Linked DNA regions of Homo sapiens. The protein of the gene in region 2 purifies or fractionates together with the protein of the main gene of each other region. This does not show direct contact. Each region holds a gene or a part of one and is shown on either strand. Other genes may lie near its edges.

Region 1 (3,747 bases), on a different chromosome or scaffold from region 2:
CATCTGTGGACAATATTTCATCCCACTTTGGGACAAGGAAAATAGAAAATAATAGCCCAAGGACAGCCATTACACAATTAAAATAAACAAGCATTTGTTTGCAAAGCAGGGCATTTAAATTCAGTTTGATTTCATTACTGTTCAAACGACCCCATATGAATCTTTCCTCTGGAATCCTCAGTTGTCCAGTATTAAAGTTACCAGTGTAGAACCAACCACTGAGGACTTCAATTATAAATATCTCTGTAAACAATTCTCCGAACCTGGTTCCCTGCAGAAGTAAGCAAATAGCTATAATAATACTCCTAGTCCAACATGGATATATTAAATGACTGTTTTGCTATTGAAATCGCAAATGCCAACAGCAGTTCCAAGAGAGGACTCTAACTTGCCAAACCTTTTATAAAAGACAGTTGCAAGCCCCGATACAAAGTTTAGAGGAATTTCCTTGTCCCTACATGTAAAGGTTTATGAAATCTGTACACTCAAGCAAAAGGACAAACAAGATCAAAGCCAACACATGAAATAAATTTCATTGTGCAAACAGTAAAAGCTGTGTAAAAGAGCTCTAGATCCCAGGTTAAAAACTGCAGGAGAAAGGTAACATTAACCCTAGCAGACGGCTGAGTTAAGATGTGGCAGAGCTTTACAGAATTGCAAATAGCATCAGCATTGCAAGAATAACAATTGGAATAAATACCGTCTGCATGCTGCAAAAACAATCAACGCACATGCTCCTTCACCTCTCCCCCTCATCCAGCTGGGCAGTGAAAGCAGCTGCCTCTCCCAGCCCTCCTCCCAAGCCGTTCTTCGCCCCACCCGCTCCCCTCTCTTCTCCACCCCTCCCCTCCTCCTTCCCTCCCCCTCCCCGCCCCCAGCTGCCGTATTCAGCAGTCTAGAGAGATTAGGAGGAGCTCGCTACAGTCTCTGGGCCTCAGGACTGATCTAACGTTTCGTAGCTCCCTGGATGAGAGAAATTAGAGACTCGACACCCAGGTGGTATTAGAAGCCTTCGCCTCCAGCCCGGCTCTCTCGCAAACCGGGGCTGGGGGACCACGGGGGGGCCTCGGGCCGGGCGACTGGGAGGCTCCGGAGGCCGCGCGGGGCTCAGCGCTGCACTCCCCTCGGGCAGCGCTACCTGAGCTGTCCATGGTGCTGGCGCGGTCCGGAGGCTGTCGGGCGGGACTCCGCGCCGCTGCCCCGGCGTTCACTCTCTGCTTGCCGCCAACCCCGCCGCTTCCCGCACTTAAGTCCCCGTTACTGTCCACCAGCTGCAAAGATTCATAACCATCGTTGCTGGTCTTTTTCCGGTAGCTCCCGAGGAGGCTCATGGGCAAGCCCGGAGAAAAGAGAAAATAATCAACCTGGGAAGCGAAAAGGGAGATGGAAGGTGGAAAGGGCTGAAGAAGGAATTAAAAAAAAAAAAAAATTAAGTGCCCGACATGACGCAAAGAGGAGGGAAAAGAAGGAGCGGCCACCGGAGAGAAGCTTCGCCGGGCGAGGCGAAGCCGCCGCCCTGGGCTGAGCTCGGCTCGGGGCGCCGGGAGGAGGGAGGGAGGGAAGGAGACGCGGCCGGGCGGGGGCGCGCGTCCTCTGGGCCAACGCCGCGGAGCCGCCCGGCCCTGCCGAGCTCCGGGCCCCAGGCCAGCACCTCCTGGCTGAGGAGTGCCCGGAAGCAATCCTATAGGTGTCGCCGCGTCGCCCCGCCGCGCAGCAGGGCAGCGCCAAAGCCGCTGGCCCGCGGGGAGGGAAGGAAAGGGAGGTAGGAAGGGAGGGGAGGTTCGTGAGGAGGGGGGTTGAAGGGAAACGGGGCGGGGTGGTCGGGGGAGGGGACTACTACGACGTGGGTTGGGAGGGTGTGTTCGCACGCGTGTGACAGAGAAGAAAGGGGCGAGGTATCTCGGCCTGCGAAGCTTTGAGGACCAGGGGTCTTGTGGTAAAATCCAGACACACCCATTTCATGCAACTTAGCCTATTTTCACCGGAAGATTCCGCCAAAGCCACCAGGACGGTAACCGTCCTAGAGAACTGACTTGTAACTCAATTCAACAGAAAAAGAATGCATGTTAAGTGCCAGAATATATCTATGCTAGGATATAAAGGAAGAGCAATATTTTGCACATTCTCCAGAATAGGGATGATCCCTAAGGGAGATATCAAAGAGTTGGGTATTCTAATACTAGGAGGCAGCGTCCGTTCTGCCTAGAGAGCAGATGTGACTGTTTAGAACTCTTTGTTGAGCGAATAAACTGGGGAGAAGGGCAAGGTTAAGTCCGACGCATTTTCAGATCCGCCACCATTTACCTTAGGACCTGGAGAAAAGACTGTTTCAGTTAGCTAGCTTGAAGGCCTGCTTGGGAAGCAAGATAGACAAGGATTTTTTTTCCCCATCCTCTAGCCTCACGCCTTATTTTTCTTTCACAATTCTGGCCAAAGAAAGCAGTAACTCATAATCAGAAGAGAATTTATCATGAAGTTAATTAAGCTGTGTACCTAATTTTGTATCTGTCATCGTGTATTCTTAAAAGAAGACTCCGACATTGTATAAGTTCTGGATCTGAACAAAACCTGGATAAACTCTGGTAAGTCTTAAAATGTAATTATCGAATGTTTATTTTCACCTAAAATAATAAGATTTCAGAAGGATTGCTCATTCTCATCATCTTAGGTCAAGATCAAGTAAGTCTTGGTTAAAAATTATCATTTTCTCTACTAAAACTTGGAGGGACTAAGTGAGGCGCCCGTCAAGAGTCATTTGACAGAGTTTCCTCACCAAAACAGGAAAAAAGTACGTGCATGTAAAATGTACTTGAGCCCATACACAAAGCCAGCTTTGCTTTCTTCTCATCTTACATGGTTTTCTCTTGCTGTCCTTATATCAATCACCTAAGGACACAAAATCAAACAATAGCATCTAAGAGACTTCAGTCCAGATGATTTGGGTCTCAGAAAGTTTCCGGGAAGCTCTAGCTCTACACAGTTCTACATAAAATAAATTGGACTAAGAGACATTTTCCTGTACAAGGATCACCCAAACACAGATTCTTGTAGGAAGAGCATCAACCAGAAGAAGTCCAAAGAAATGTTTTCTAAATCCTTCCAGTCCTTCTGGGGAAACCTAAACTTCCTGGCCAGTTGCTTTCCCAACTGCATTCTTTGATGAGGTATGGTGTGACCTGAATTGCAAATCAGAGTTAATGCTCATTTATAACAAGATCAAACAATCTGAATGGTGGCAGGAAAAACTGCAATAAAAATTTTAAAACAAATTTTTATACTTTCAATTTTCCAAATCTGTCAGATTGAATTATTTTAGTTACTTGACTAAAGTAATAATTCTGTGAAGTCTAGTAAATCTTTTCCCATAACATCTTAAATAATCTTTCTCTGTACTTTTTCTTTTAATTCATTACAGACACACAGGGACAGTAAATACCTAGTGTTCATCATGTGCCCTGACAAATGCTGGACTATAATCATTGGATTAATAGAATTTAGAACCAGCCTCAGTGACAGACTGAGACCCTGTCTCAAAAAATAAATAAATAAATACAGGATCATTTTTGAAAAGTGAAAATTATTATTTTCAAAAAGAGCACTTTCAGTTATTTTTGCTCAACTTGCAGACATATTGCTGAAAGAAATTATAGATGAGACATATGCCTTTGTATTTTTCAATATCTATCTCTGGAGTTTGCAAGTGTAAAGAAAAATCTGAATGGGCTATAAGAATTTTATCTTTATACT
Region 2 (3,734 bases):
CTGTAATCCTAGCTGCTTGGGAGGCTGAGGCAGAATCACTTGAACATGGAAGGAGGAGGTTGCAGTGAGCCGAGATCATGCCATTGCCACTCCAGCCTGGGCAACAAGAGCAAAACTTCGTCTCAAAATAAATAAATAAATAAATAAATAAAATAAAAATAGATTCACCATATGAGGCCGGTTGCAGTGGCTCACGCCTGTAATCCCAGCACTCTGGGAGGCCGAGGTGGGCAGATCACCTGAGATCAAGAGATAGATCGAGACCATCCTGGACAACATGGTGAAACCCCGTCTCTACTAAAAACACAAAAATTAGTTGGGCATGGTGGCGTGTGCCTGTAGTCCCAGCTACTCAGGAGACTGAGGCAGGATAATTGCTTGAACCTGGGAGGCGGAGGTTGCAGGGAGCCGAAATTGTGCCGCTGCACTCCAGGCTGGCGACAGAGAGAGACTCTGTCTCAAAAAAAAAAAAAAAAAAAAAAGATTCACCATATGATTTGCCAGTTCCATTTCTGGGTATACACCCAAAATAATAAAAAACAGAGGCTGGGAGAGAGATTTGTACACCCATGTTCATAGCAGCATTATTCACAATAGCCAAAAGGCAGATGTAACCATTCATCAATAGATGAATAAATAAACAAAGTGTGGAATATATACAATGGAATATTATTCAACCTTAAAAAGGAAGGAGATTCTGCCATATGCTACACATGAATAAACCTTGAAGACATGATGCTAAGTGAAATAAGCCAGTTGCAAAAAGACAAAGACTTCATGGACCCACACATCTGAGGCACTTAGAGCAGTCACATTCATAGAGATGGAAAGTAGAATGGTGGATGCCAGGAGCCGGGGGAAGGCAGGAATGGGGGGTTATTTTTTCATGGGTACAGAGTTACAGTTTTACAAGAGGAAAGGAGTTCTGGAGATGAACAGTTGCGGTGGTTGTACAACATTATGAATGTACTTAACACCACCAAACTATACACCGGCAAGTGGCTGAGATAGTAAACTTTATGATACATGTATTTTTAAAACTGGCAAAAAATCCCTACAAACATATAGCAACAAATAGTTTTCCCTTTGCTTCAAGCCCCAATATATCTTAGCATGCCTCTGTTTGATCCTCTGTTGGATTTTGATATTTCATTCATTGTGGGGTTTTGCATTCATTTGATTTTTAAAAATATTATCCTAATATTATTTACCTTGGTTACTAAATTTTTTGGCATCGCCTTAAATGTTGCACCCAAGGTGAGTGTGCCTCACTTCCCTCACCCTAATCCCAGCCCTGCAATTATGTTCCTGCCTCGAGGGCTTCCAAGACTCTCCATCACCTTCTGAGAAAGCCCAGGCCCTCCGACTGGCTTTGGGCACCTGTCCACGTCTCTCCTCCCCTGCTCTTGCTCCACTGAACTCCTGTGGCCATAAGCCCATGTTTCTGGGGCTGGTAGACACTACGGTCCCTGCCAGAATGAGCCTCCACCTCAAAACTCCCTCTTGATCCAAGACTGTCCCAGTGAATATTTTCCACAGCTCCTCTCTCCTCAACTCCCGTGAAAAGCCATGAGTTGGTCCCATACCCCCAAGAGTGCCCCACCTTGTCAGGCCAGGTACTTCTTCCTGGGAGGGGCCATCTTCCCACTTCATGCCCAACCCAGCACTGGGCACTTAATAAATGCCCATGACTTGTGATAATTAAGTCCTCCACCAAGAAAGGACAGCTGGAGCCTGATGCAAAGGTTTATTGCTGAGTCTGTGCGTCTAGCTGAGGGGAGTGCAAATTGTGCCCCGGCCTTGCCAGACGGAAGCTCCTTGTCCCCGACTGCAGCACAGGCCCTGGCCTGTGGACATAAGCAAAGATTTGGTGCTGGATGAGGAAGGAGGGAGCAGGGATGTGGGGACATGGGCCTTTGTCCCTGATAGTTCAGCCATGGCTCTCAGCTTCCCCTGCCAGGGAACCCTGAATGGAAGGGGCAAGAGAAGCTGCTGGTAGGGACAAGAGGGTCACCCAGGTTTGCTTGTAACCCCACCTGAGGTAGACCCTTTTGGGCACAGCCAGGGCCTTTGTCCTATCCTGAATCCTCTGGGCTGATCCAAGGGAGCTGGACTCTGTCCCCAGCCACCCCTCAGGACAGCCCAGCTATTGGCCATAGCTGGTGTCAACAGTACCCTCCCTTAACCCCTTAACACACCATCCTGTTGTCCAACCAGCCCAGGGTACTGTGTGTGGGTGGGGAAGTGGTGTGTGGATCTGCTGTCCAAGGACACAGGGAGCAGATCCTGCTGGAGAAGGCTGGAGGTTGCTCTGAGCCTAGTATTTGGGGAAGGGTCCTGCTGTGTCTCACTCTGGCACCCAAGGGCCCCCAGGTCTGCCCCCTCCCCACTAATTTATTTATGTGGGGGCCACACAGGCCAGAGCTAGCTTGGACTTTGGACCCTTTGGAGGCTGCTGGGAGGGACAGTCACTGGCTCTGGGTAGACAGGTGTCAAACTTGTCACATGGAGGTGGCAGGGTGAGCAGCTGGCCTGTGTGTGGGAGGGATATTCCCTGTCCTTGATGAAATACTGGGAGGGAGGGCTGTTTGCTGAGCCCAGGCCCACCAGGTGAGTCGTGGGCCCCCAGGGGCAGGAGAGCTGCGGGAGATTGGTCAGTTGGGCACTGCTGAGTCACCGTGAGCTTCAGCTGCCCCAAGTCCTGCCCGTTCCTAGCTGGGGCTGGCTGCTGTGAGTCCTAGAGGCCAGTGCAGCCGGGCGGTGAAGGGCAGGGCTTGGGGTTGGGGGCATGAGGCGCTGGGATACTGTGGGAGGTATGGGGGAGGGTCCGCGCCTCAAGGCTAGCAGGGCTCAGAGCTTTGGTGAGGTGGCAGGTTGGGGCCAGGGAGTCCCAGGGGGCTGATAGGGTCCTGGGGTTTGGGGCTGCAAGGCAGCTAGGGCTACCAGGTCTCAGGGTGACTGACACGCATGAATTCAGGCACCTGTGAAAAGGAAACCCAGTCAGCATCCCTGAGACCCAAAATAAATGGGTTTAGGCATTGTGTGTGGTGGGGCGGCCCTGGAAGCTGTGACACCTGAGGTCTTGGGGCGGGGCCAAAAGAAATTCAATGGGTGGGACTTGTGGGGTGGGGCGGGGCCTCTGTCGGTGGGGTGGAGCCTGAGGAGCTGGGGTGGGGCCTGGAGGCAGTAGGCTCCAGGATTTGGGGGTGAGGCTCCAGGGCCGTGGTGTGGGGTGGGGAGCTGGACGGGGCTGGGGTATTGAGGCAAGAGCCTGGAGAGGGCAGCGACCTACCTCAGAAGAGGCCACAGTCTTTGAGGTTCTCCTTGATGATGATGTCGGTGACAGCGTCGAAGACAAATTTGACGTTCTGCGTGTCGGTGGCGCACGTCATGTGGGAATAGATCTCCTTCACGTCGCGCCGCATGTTGAGCTCGAGGAACTGCACCTTGATGTAGTTGCCGGCGTCCTCGTAGGTGTTGGGTCCTGCGGGGGCGGGAGCTCTCACTCTGCTCAGCCCTTCCTTCCCCGTGCGGGGGGTGCGCGCCGCGATCGTGGGGCGGGGGCGCCGCCTGGCGGCCTTGCGGACTTCTCACCATCGTAGTCCGGGAAACAGATGCTGAGGTGCGCCTTCTTGATCTTCTCGAAGAAGACGTCCTTCTTGTTAAGGAAGAGCACGATGGACGTCGTGGCGAAGTAGCGGTGGTTGCAGATGCTGTTGAACAGGTGCAGGCTC

Evidence for each region.
Region 1: the proteins of GNAT1 (region 2) and DNAJC6 purify together in Homo sapiens (affinity purification with mass spectrometry; 2 studies listed by BioGRID and IntAct, with this or other methods). This does not show direct contact.

What each region holds. Positions count from the first base shown.
Region 1 is NC_000001.11:65,307,330-65,311,076, reverse strand, and holds the start of DNAJC6 (auxilin), read right to left. Parts: upstream 1,535-3,747; 5' UTR 1,332-1,534; coding exon 1,139-1,331; intron 1-1,138. UniProt on the Homo sapiens protein: May act as a protein phosphatase and/or a lipid phosphatase.
Region 2 is NC_000003.12:50,194,515-50,198,248, reverse strand, and holds the end of GNAT1 (guanine nucleotide-binding protein G(t) subunit alpha-1), read right to left. Parts: coding exon 3,595-3,734; intron 3,485-3,594; coding exon 3,294-3,484; 3' UTR 3,293-3,293; intron 2,982-3,292; 3' UTR 553-2,981; downstream 1-552. UniProt on the Homo sapiens protein: Functions as a signal transducer for the rod photoreceptor RHO. Required for normal RHO-mediated light perception by the retina.